Linked DNA regions of Homo sapiens. The protein of the gene in region 2 purifies or fractionates together with the protein of the main gene of each other region. This does not show direct contact. Each region holds a gene or a part of one and is shown on either strand. Other genes may lie near its edges. The genes, in order: FKBP5, CDKL4 and MYO18A.

Region 1 (3,751 bases), on a different chromosome or scaffold from region 2:
CTGCCTCCCGGGTTCAAGCGATTCTCCTGCCTCAGCCTCCTGAGTAGCTGACACTACAGGCCTGCGCCACCATGTCCGGCTAATTTTTGTATTTTTAGTAGAGACGGGGTTTTGCCATGTTGGCCAGGCTGGTCTCGAACTCCTGACCTCAGGTGATCCACCCGCCTCAGCCTCCCAAAGTGCTGGTATTACAGGCGTGAGCCATCGCGCCTAGCCTAGTATTGCTTTATTTAACAGTAATATGCTTGCTGTACCCGGCATGAAGAATTCCTCTAAAGACCATTAATTAAAATAAGTTTTCATAATTCCTAAAGAATAATCTATATTATACATATTGGCACACTAAATTTTGTAATTCATGTTTAACAAATATCTGCATTTTATAATTCTGAAACTATTTGAACTTTACAACTTAGCTGATTAGTAGATTTTGTTTTTTAAGTATTTTATATTTCTAAATTTTTCTGCAGTACATTTTAGTGCATTTTAAAATTCTGACATCATATCCCCAAAAGTATAAAGAAAATTAAATCTACATTCAGTAGCGACTGGGTGGTGGTGGTATGTATGTCACATAACTATTGATTTAAAACAATAACCACTTAAGTGTAATTTAATTTGCAAATGAGATGTTTATTTACTATGTAAAAGACAGTACTGCCAAATGAGACTGGCTAAAATAATTTACAGTGGGGCCATATGTACTAGCAGGTTACTAACAGATTAATAAGGATATTTTAACAATATTTAGAACACTAAAATTCCACTACTCAAAATAATTTGTACTTCTTATAGTAGTTTGAGAACCTACATTTTATGCTTAATTTAGTATTTACTTCTAGTCTTTTTTTTTTTGAGTCGGGGTCTTGCTTTATTGCCCAGGCTGGAGTGCTGTGGTGTCATCATGGCTCACTGCAGACTTCCCAGGCTCAAGAGATCCTCCTGCCCAACCACCTGGTCTCAAGTGATCCTCCCACCTCAGCCTCCCAAGTAGCTGGGGTTACAGGCACACACCACCACACCTGGCTAATTTTTAAAACTTTTAATTTTTAGTAGAGATAAGGTCTCACTATGTTGCCCAGGCTGGTGTCCAACTCCTGAGCTCAAGTGATCCTCCTGCTTTGGCCTCCCAAAGTGCTGGGATTATAAGTGCGAGCCACAGTGCCAGGCCGACTTATAGCCTCTTGGAAAACATTTGGTTAATGAAAGTGAAGGTCCACCAGAGGGAGTGTGGGGTCTATATATTTGTTGTATTTGTTTTTTACCCTTGGTCTGGAATCAAAACATTTAAAAAATAAGAATAAGATTTTATTTTAGTTCTCTAAAACAATCAGTCAAAAGATATTGAAAATTGTGATTGTAGTTGTTTGGAGTTGCTGTCATTTTTGTTATCAAAATCAAGGCTTAATCAAGGCTGTTTTTCTTCTTAGAAAAAGGTGGCGAGGTGCAGTGACTCACGCCTGTAATGCCAGCACTTTGGGAGGCCAAGGCACGTGGATTGCTTGAGCCCAGGAATTTGAGACCAGCCTGGGAAACATGGTGAAACCTCCTCTCTACAAAAGTACAAAAGTTAGCCAGGTGTGGTGGAGTACACCTGTAGTCCCAGCTACTTGGGAGGCTGAGGTGGGAGGATCACTTGAGCCTGGGAGGTTGAGGCTGCAGTGAGCGGTGATTAAGCCATTGTACTCCAGCCTGGACAACAGAGCGAGACCCTGCCTTAAAAAAAAAAAAAAAGATACAATTACTGGAAAAATGAAAATGATGTATTTTCAAAGTGAAATAATGGGTTTTTAAGTAAACAGTCACACATCTGTGAAAGCTAAGGAATGTCCAAATTCTTTATTTTATTATTATTATTTTTTGAGACAGGGTCTTGCTCTGTTGCTCAGGCTGGAGTGCAGCGGTACAGTCTCCGCTCACTGCAACCTCCATTGGTTCAAGCGATTCTTCCTGCCTCAGCCTCCTGAGTAGCTGGGATTACAGGTACACACCACCACGCCCAGCTAATTTTTGTATTTTTGGTAGAGACGAGGTTTTGCCATGTTGGCCAGGGCCAGGCTGGTCTTAAACTCCTGATCTTAGGTGATCCGCCTGCCTCGACCTCCCAAAGTGCTGGGATTACAGGTGTGAGCCACCATGCCCAGCCTAGGAATGTCCAAATTCTGATAATGTTTTATAAGATTAAAAATATAGGCCAGGCCAGGAGGTCAGGCGTTGGAGACCAGCCTGGCCAACATGGCAAAACCCCATCTCTACTAAAAAAAAAAAAAAAAAAAAAAAAAATTAGCCAGTCATGGCAGTGCATGCCCTTAGTCCCAACTACTCAAGAGGCTGAGGCAAGCAAATTACTTGAACCTGGGAGGTGGAGGTTGGAATGAGCTGAGATTGCACCACTACACTCCAGCCTGGGCAACACAGTGAAACTCCATCTCAATAAAAAAAAAAGTATATATATATACCAGGCATGATGTCTCACACCTGTAATGTCAACACCTCAACACTTTGGGAAGCCAAGGCAGGAGGGTTGCTTGAGCCCAGGAGTTAGAGACCAGCCTGGGCAACATAGTAAGACCCCATTTCTACAAAAAATATAAAGTTCTCCAGGTGTGGTAGCTTGTATCTGTGATCCCAGCACTTTGGAAGGGTGAAGCAAGAGAATCACTTGAGCCCAGGAGTTCAGTGCTGCAGTGAGCCACCATACTCCAGCCTGGGGGACAGAGCAAGACCCAGTCTCAAATACACACACACACACACACACACACACACACACACACACACACACACACACACACACATATACGTATATATATACACACACACTTTTTTTTTTAAAGAAAGAGCTTGGGATATATATTTCTATACTTTTTTTAAGAAAAAGATTGGAAGAGACATATATATACACACAGACACATACATACATTTTAAAGAGATTGACGTATGTTTTTAACCTTTTTTTAAAAAAGAAATGGGATATATATATATATACTTTTTTTTCTTTTTTTTTTTTTTTAAAAGAGATTGTTTCTTGCTCTGTCACCGAGGCTGAAGTGTGGTGGCTAACTGCAGCCTCGACACAAACTCCTGGGCTCAAGCAATCCTCTTGTCTCAGCCTCCCAAAGTGCTGGGATCCCAGGCCCAAGCCACCATGCCTGGCTTAAAAATGTAGTACATTTGAATTGTATCCTTTTGAAATTGTTCGTTTTTTGGAAAGAAGAATAAGAGATGAAGAAAAATCAGACTGGAAGAGGGTTGTTTTTTCCCTTTTGTAGTTGCAAATCCTAAGTGGGCAGTGGTAAATTTCTAGAATCATTTGTAGCATTCTGTTTTAAACTTGGCAATTTAAAGATGTTATAAATGAGGAGTCCCCAGAAAATGGTCATTTCATTATCAAAAGCAGGGTTGCAAATTTCAGATTGATCTTTTCAAAAGTTAGATTTGTACTTGTTCTCAGTGTTCCTATCTCTGGAAACTAAAGAACCTCCTCCATTGTTAGCTGAAAATTGCACAGTGAATTTGAAAGTCAAGATGTCCCAGTCATGGACATAATGCTGCGATAGGTTACTTTTTGGAATGGAGAAAACATCTTAGAGATTGAGTCTGCATCAGAATATATTCTGAATGAGCATGGAATGTTCTTTACCCATGTTAGATATTAATTAATTAAGTTTTTCCATGTTTAACTTTTTTAAAAAAGCAAGACAATAAAAACAGTCTTGTAATCTGAACACATATTTTGGGTTTTGTTGCTAGC
Region 2 (3,751 bases):
AGGCTGGGTGCGGTGGCTCACGCCTGTAATCCCAGCACTTTGGGAGGCAGAGGGAGGTGGATCACGAAGTCAAGAAATCGAGACCATCCTGGCCAACATGGTGAAACCCCGTCTCTACTAAAAATACAAAAAATTAGCTGAGTGTGGTGGTGCGCACCTATAGTCCCAGCTACTTAGGAGGCTGAGGCAGGAGAATCGCTTGAATTTGGGAGGCGGAGGTTGCAGTGAGCCAAGATCACACCACTGCACTCCAGCCTGGCAACAGAGTGACAGTCCGTCTCAAAAAAAAAAAAAAAAAAAAAAAAAAAAAAGACAAGGTGAGAGAATGGTACTATGGTCTTTACACACATTATCTCATTTAATCTCATAAATGAGATTTTATGAGACTTCATCTCATAATCTCACAACAATAGTTGTTATTATTTTTTCAGACAGGGTCTCTCTCTGTTGCCAAAACTGGAGTGCAGTGGCATGATCATGGCTCACTTCAGCCTCGATCTCCCAGTCTCAAGCAATCCTTCCACCTTAGCCTCCCGAGTAGCTGGAACTACAAGCATGCGCCATCATGTCCAGCTAATTTTTAAAAATTTTTTGCAGATATGGGGTCTGCCTATGTTGCCCAGCCTGGAGTAGTTGCTATTTTAAATCCCCATTGTGCCAATGAGGAAAATGAGGCTTAGAGAAATTTAATAACTTGTCCAAGATCACACAGTAACTTAACAGATCCAGGATTTAAACTCAGGTATGTAATGTAAATTTCCAGAATCTTTTTAGGGAATGAATCAGACAAACAAAGTGTGGCCTGCAGTGGTAATCTACCCCACATTTTTCATGCTGCAGAATTTTCCATAATATGTTGGAACTGACCAGGGAACTGTCCAGCAGCCATGCTGCCAGGAGAGCCTGTGGGAAGAAATTAACAAATTCTCATTTTGTGTGTAGAGGTGTCACTTTCTTTGCATCCATGCTGTTGGCATGAAGCTGTGGCTCACTTTTCGGGTTATGCTGACACATAATGAAAGCTCACGAAAGAAACCCTTGCAGTCTCATTCCTATTCTGCACTTACCTGGCTATATGACTTCAGGCCAATCATGGAAGCTCCCTAAGCCTCTGTTTCCTCGTTTATAACATAGGCACAATTAAAAACATTATAACTTCCTTAACAGGTTTTTCTTAAGACTGAAAAAGATGATGCGTATGAAAGTAATTTGTAAATTCTTAAGTACTATACAAAGAAGATGTGTTAACATTATTCTAAACTTCAGCAGCCACCCCTAATCAGGAAGTAAAATCAGACTCTTAGGATCTCGGGCAGGAGTGTGGGCCAAATCTGGCCTACTGCCTGTTTCTGTACAGCTTGTGACCTCAGAATTGGTTTTACATTTTTAAGCAGATTTTTAAAAGTCAAAAAAGATTTTTTGATATTGTTGCACGTGAAAACTACAATAAATTAAAATTTCTGTGTCCATAAATAAAGTTCTATTGGAACACAGCTATGCTCATTTGTTGACATGCTGCGTATTGCTGCTTTTGCACTACAATAGCAGAGTTGGGGAACTGCAACAGAGGCTGTACAGCCTGCATAACCTAAAATATTTACCATATAGCTTTTTATAGAAACAAATTTGCTGATTCCTGCTCTAGAGTAAAGGGGGGAACCTCTTTTACAGTGGACAGAAATTGCATTTGATCAAATATCTTAGATTAAGCTCTAGGCAGCTGACTCATATCCTTATCCCTATCTTAGTCTGATATGGAAAGTAAATGTATAGTTTATTCCATGGCTAATTGACTTTTCCTGCAAAGGGATCTGAGAGCTCCCTGAGAGGAGTTACGGTTCTGCATGTTTAGAAAAGGATTGGGCTTTGGCTACAACCCAGAACTGAGAACAACCATCCTGAGTGACACTTTGAAGAAGCAATAAAACTCTTGTTTTTTATTTTTATTTATTTATTTTTTATTATAGTAACATATGAATGCTATAACAATTCAGCAACTCTGTTGCCATAAAATGCAATTCATACCTAGTGTTCTGATTATCAGATAAAGTTGGTCCACATCTGATTTTCCAGGCCACAGTGGCTGGCCTGTCAGGAGCTCTGCAAAAACACAACCAATAGCCCATATATCGACTGAAGAACCATACTGAGTATCTCCCACAAGAAGTTCAGGAGCTCGGTACCATCTCGTAGCTACATAATCGGTGTAGGCATCTCCTGGAACTGCAAATGCATCAATCAGATCAGGTAAGTCAATTCTCCCAACATGTGAACTGCTCCCAAGAACACATCAGGCATTCAGGCTGCAATAACCATCAGAGGCCATGATACTCTTAAGGGTTAATGCATTGAGGCACTAATTGAGGAAACAGTTACTGTGCATTGAGATAGTAAATTTGACATTCAAGAGCACTTTAGATAATTAACATCTCTTACTACTCCAAACTGGGGTGGCGGGTGGTGTGATAGGGATGGGGGGAATGAGAATTTCTGGAGTGTGACTTTAAGTCTAAACCGCATTGTTGGTTTCCACTTTACCATCAGCATGGTGGTTGTTGTGCACTGAATTGTGTCCCCTCCAAAGATAGGTTGAAGTCCTAATTCTTGCTACCTGTGAATGTGATCTTATTTGGAAATAAGGTTTTTGCAGATGTAATTAATTAGTCAAGATGAGGTCATATTAGATTAGGGTGGACTCTAAATCCAATGACTTGAATCCTTACAGGGATGCAGAGACATGGAGAATGCCAAGCGATACTGGAGGCAGAGATTGGAGTGATGCAGTTGCAAGCACAGGAATGCCAACTTTTCCCACATCCATCAGAAGCTGGGCTAGAGGCCGGGCATGGTGGCTCATGCCTCTCATCCCAGCACTTTGGGAAGCCAAGGCAAGCAGATCATTAGAGGTCAGGAGTTTGAGACCAGCCTGGGCAACATGGCAAAACCCTGTCTCTACTAAAAATACGAAAATTAGCCAGGCATGGTGGCACATGCTTGTCGTCCTAGCTACTTGAGAAGCTGAGGCAGGAGAATCACTTGAACCTGTGGAGGCTGCAGTGAGCCGTGATCATGCCACTGCACTCCAGCCTGGGCGACAGAGTAAGACTCTAACTCACACATATACAAAAAAAGAAGCTAGGATAGAGACATGGAAGGGGCCTCTCCTAGAGCCTTTAGAGGGAATGTGGCCCTGCTGAAACCTTGATGGCAGATGTCTGGCCTCCAGAATTGTGAGAAAATAGATTTCTGTTGTTTTCAGCCACTCAGATTGTGGTAATGTATCATGGCAGCCCCAGGAAACTAATGCAGCACTAGACAATTGCATAAATTAATTTTTCTATCCAAATGTGACCCACTGTGACAAAGACCTCAATTTGACTCCTTGTACTATGTATGAGTCATGTGTGATATGTGATAGACAGATGACAGAGAGCTAGGTGCACCCTCACTGCCCAGCCCTGCCCTATGCCACAGGTGTGGACTGCCTGGACCCAAGGCACCTGCCTCCAAGTGGGTGGAAGCCAATCCCAGAATCATCACAGGACCCTGAACGATCAGGAGCTGTACAAATGCATTACAGAGGAGGAACAATTGGAAAGCAGCCCGACTTGCAGAGATGAGGTAATGGGCAATTCTCCTTAGTAAAGTCGTCAGGTAGCCCCAAAGACACTGCCACAAAAGGCAGCTCAGAAAGTAGCGGCTACAGCTCTGGTCAGAGAACAGTCCTCATAGGAGTGGGAAAAGGAAATAA
Region 3 (3,751 bases), on a different chromosome or scaffold from region 2:
CTATACCCAAGGGCGGGGCCAAGGTCAGTTACCCGCTTGCTCCTCGGGGGCCTCTGTCAGGAAGGGAACAAGAAGGAGAGTTATTCCAGCGGGGCTGCCCTGCCTTAGTGCCCTTCTCATCCCTCAGCCTCTGAACCCCCAGCCCTCCATGCTTCCTCATGGTGCCCCCCAGCACAGCCAGCTAAGTCCAGGCCTCGGGTCGTCACTGCCAAAGATGCTTCCCGGGCCTTCTGCTCTGAAGTGGGGGGCTGAGAAGAGGCACAAGCAAAAGAGGGTTGTCTCAGAACGGCTAAGTCTGTGCTGGGCAAGAATAAACTGGGAGTGGGCAGGGTCCCTGTGAGGTCACCCAGGGGACAGGCCAGCCTACTGGGACCCACTGCAGGTTACCTTTGGTGGCTCCCGCAGCCCCCAGGTGGTAGATGGCAGCCAGAATGAACCAGCAGGCCTTCTGTTCATCGGGGGAGATGCCCAGCACCTTCATGGCCGCCTGCAGCTTACTAAACTGCTGAGCTGCCTTCTGCTTTTCCTCAGGCTGTGGAGATAGATGACCTCAAAGGGCTGTCCCTCCCAGCACACCCCCATGAGGCTGGGCCCTCAGGGCAAGGCTTGGGTAGAGCCAGCAGCTGGAGCTGGGCTCCCACTATTCCCACAGGACCCATGGAGGCTTCTCCTACCCCCAAGGCCCAGGGCTGGCAACCCAGACCCCACAGACCCCTCACCTTGGCCAGTGGCACAATCCCAAACACATTGTTCTCTGCCAAGTGGTTGAGGTGGAGCTCTGTCCTAGGGGTACAAATAAGGCATCAGCACGGCACTTGGTCCCCATGCCAAGGCCATTTCCGCCCAGGGTGGAGACAGACAGACTCAGCTTCCAGACTCCAAGTTTTGTCTGCCCATCATCCCATCATCCCCAACTGGCGGGCCAGCTGTCACTGCTTTCCTAACTGGCCTGGATGCCTGGTTAGAGTACCATTCTCCTGAGGACAAGCCACCAGACATGCCCTGGTGAGAGGATGCAACCTGGCCCCCGGAAGGGAGCAGGGAACCTGCCCGAAGGGTGAGTCCCGCCAAGGCAGAGACGATGCCCTCAGTTACAAGAAGGGCTAAAGAGGACAATGGCCTGGGGATGCTGGCTCAGCCTCATCATTTATCTCTTTTTAGTGAACACACGCGGCAAATCTGAATGTCTGAAGGGAAGAGCGTGGCAGAGGCAGCCAACGTGGGGCAGGAAGGGCTAGTCTGGAGGGCACTGGAAGAGGCATGGGCTTTTGGCCCCAGTGTGGATTCAAATACCAGTTCAGCCCCCTACCAGTCATGCGACAGTAGGCAAGTCCCCAACCACTGGTACCTCAGTGTGCTTTGCTTTCCAGAACTGGCTTCATGGGTAATGGAGATCCTAGCTAGGCCCTGGCAACACTGAAGGGCTGGCTGTTCCCCTCCAATACAGCCAGGCCCCAGTACCCAGGACCAGGGAGTTCTTGATAGGCAGGGACTATGTCTCATCCATCTCACTGTCCCTGGGGCCTAGCTCAGAGCCTAGCACATAGCAGACATGCACTGACCAAACAGTGCAGGATGCGATCAAGTGGCTTTAATTCTGGATGCAATCAAGGTCCAGGAGCCCAGTCAGTGGGCTGGAGTTCAGAGAACCCTTGTGTACCCTCTGACCCATCTCACCTGAGGGTGCCATCCCCACAGGCCAGCAGGTAGTAGAAGACGTTGAATGTGGCTTCACTGGCTGGGCGCCGAGCCACACGCAGCTTCTCCAGAAGCATTGTCTGTGACACAGCATGGACGTGTGGGTAAGGAGGGTAGTGCCAGATCAAGTTTCTCCCACCCCACATAAGAAGGAATCAAACACATGGTCCTCTAGGCCCTGGGGAACAAGCAGCTGCATTTTTTTTTTTTTTTTTTTTTAAGATTTGAGATGGAGTCTCACTCTGTCACTCAGGCTGGAGTGCAGTGGAGCGATCTTGGCTCACTGCAACTTCTGCCTCCTGGGTTTAAGCAATTCTCCTGCCTTGGCCTCCTGAGTAGCTGGGATTACAGGCATGCACCACCATACCCGGCTGATTTTTGTGTTTTTAGTAGAGATGGGGTTTTGCCATGTTGGCCAGGCTGTTCTTGAGCTCCTGACCTCAGGTGATCCACCCACCTCAGCCTCCCGAAGTGCTGGGATTACAGGCGTGAGCCACCGCACCCAACCTGCATCTTGTTTTTTAAGTCTTTTTTTTTTAAGATAGGGTCTCGCTCTGTTGCCCAGGCTGGAGTGCAGTGGCGCAATCACAGCTCGCTGCAGCCTTAACCTCCCAGGTTCAAGTGACCCTCCCATTTCAGCCTCCCAAGTAGCTGGGACCACAGGCGTGCACTACCACATCTGGCTCAATTAAGCAGGTGCATCTTATTCCCAAGGTGCTCAATCAGATACCAGATCCCTCTAGGATCAAATGGGGGACAGAAACCAGAATGAGGTGGAAGAAGACAGGCCCAGCTCCCAAAGGGGCCCTGCTGCTCTGCCCAGACCCCAGGTGCCTGCCTTCTGGAAATGGGAGCTTGTGGTGAGGTATTTAGCATGGGAGGGAATCAGCCTTGGCTGGGCCTTACTTTACTGACAAGCCAGTCCTCTGCTAGGTGAAATCGGCCCGAGAGAAGCCCCGAGCATGAATCTCAGAAAGTGGGAAGTAAGGCTGAGGCCCAGCAGTAGAGTTAGGACAACCCCAGGGTTGGGAGAGTGAAGGGAACTGGGCAGAAAGCTGGACTGGCCCCATCCAGGGCAGGAGGCCCTGAGGGCAGAATGGTGATGCCTCTGGATAGTGCAGGCCAACCCTGCCCATGCCTGGGTCAATTTTGTTAGGGTAGAATCCCAGGAAAATGAGGCATGGGAGAGAGCCTGATGTCTAGGTCATGAAATCATGTGGCCTGTGTCCTACTACCCCGAGTCCTGGGCAGCACTCTCACCTGAATGGAGGCTGAGGCCACCTGGCCAGCTTGGTCAAAGTCCAGGGAGAGGATCTGGGAGAAGCGGGTGGCATTGCCATTAATGATGGTGGGGCTGTTCCCAAAGGCTTCCAGGAGGGTGTACAGAGCCTGCCACTTCTCCACTGCAGAATACAGGCCCAAGGGGATATCAGGAAAGCCAGGGGCAGCTTATCCCCCAGCTAGGAGCTACCCCAGAGGTATGAAGGCTTGGGGCCATTCAGACCAGAACTGCCCGTGGACAGAGGGGTTTCGGGGGGATGGAAAGGCCAGGGAGAAAAAGAGCTGGCACTTAAGAGGGTGCTCTCTCCTCACTCCCCTCCCCTCACCCCACTTTCAGTTTTCTCCCTTGTCCCTGCCTCACCAGAAAACACCTTGTTCCCGCTGATGCCCGCGATGGTGGCCAGGTACTGCACCAGATGCTGGCAGCTGGTGGTCTTGCCACTGCCACTACTGCCCAGGAGGATGATTGACTGATCCTGACGGCTCATCAGCATCGCCCTGTATGCGGTCTGGGCCACTGCATAGATGTGGGGTGCCATGTCCTCCCGCCGACAACCCTTGAACATGTGCATCACCTTGGGCAGGAGAGCAAGGGAGAGAAGGGGTTGGCTCTTAGCTGATCCCATTAAGACACCCCTCACCCCCAAGGTCCACATCTTTCTGGATTTTCCCTCCTGTAGTGCCCAGGGATTCCAAGGCCAAGGCCATGCATGGAAATGAAGACACTAAGTCCTGGACTCCATCAAAGGTTGTGGGGAGGTCCTGTCCCCCA

The links.
Region 1: the proteins of CDKL4 (region 2) and FKBP5 purify together in Homo sapiens (affinity purification with mass spectrometry; 3 studies listed by BioGRID and IntAct, with this or other methods). This does not show direct contact.
Region 3: the proteins of CDKL4 (region 2) and MYO18A purify together in Homo sapiens (affinity purification with mass spectrometry; 3 studies listed by BioGRID and IntAct, with this or other methods). This does not show direct contact.

Annotation. Positions count from the first base shown.
Region 1 is NC_000006.12:35,682,165-35,685,915, reverse strand, and holds part of FKBP5 (peptidyl-prolyl cis-trans isomerase FKBP5), read left to right. Parts: intron 1-3,751. UniProt on the Homo sapiens protein: Immunophilin protein with PPIase and co-chaperone activities. Component of unligated steroid receptors heterocomplexes through interaction with heat-shock protein 90 (HSP90).
Region 2 is NC_000002.12:39,188,280-39,192,030, forward strand, and holds part of CDKL4 (cyclin-dependent kinase-like 4), read right to left. Parts: intron 2,224-3,751; coding exon 2,026-2,223; intron 1,181-2,025; exon of another isoform or gene 1,068-1,180; intron 1-1,067.
Region 3 is NC_000017.11:29,117,658-29,121,408, forward strand, and holds part of MYO18A (unconventional myosin-XVIIIa), read right to left. Parts: intron 3,555-3,751; coding exon 3,341-3,554; intron 3,102-3,340; coding exon 2,959-3,101; intron 1,779-2,958; coding exon 1,678-1,778; intron 784-1,677; coding exon 720-783; intron 533-719; coding exon 388-532; intron 54-387; coding exon of another isoform or gene 33-53; intron 1-32.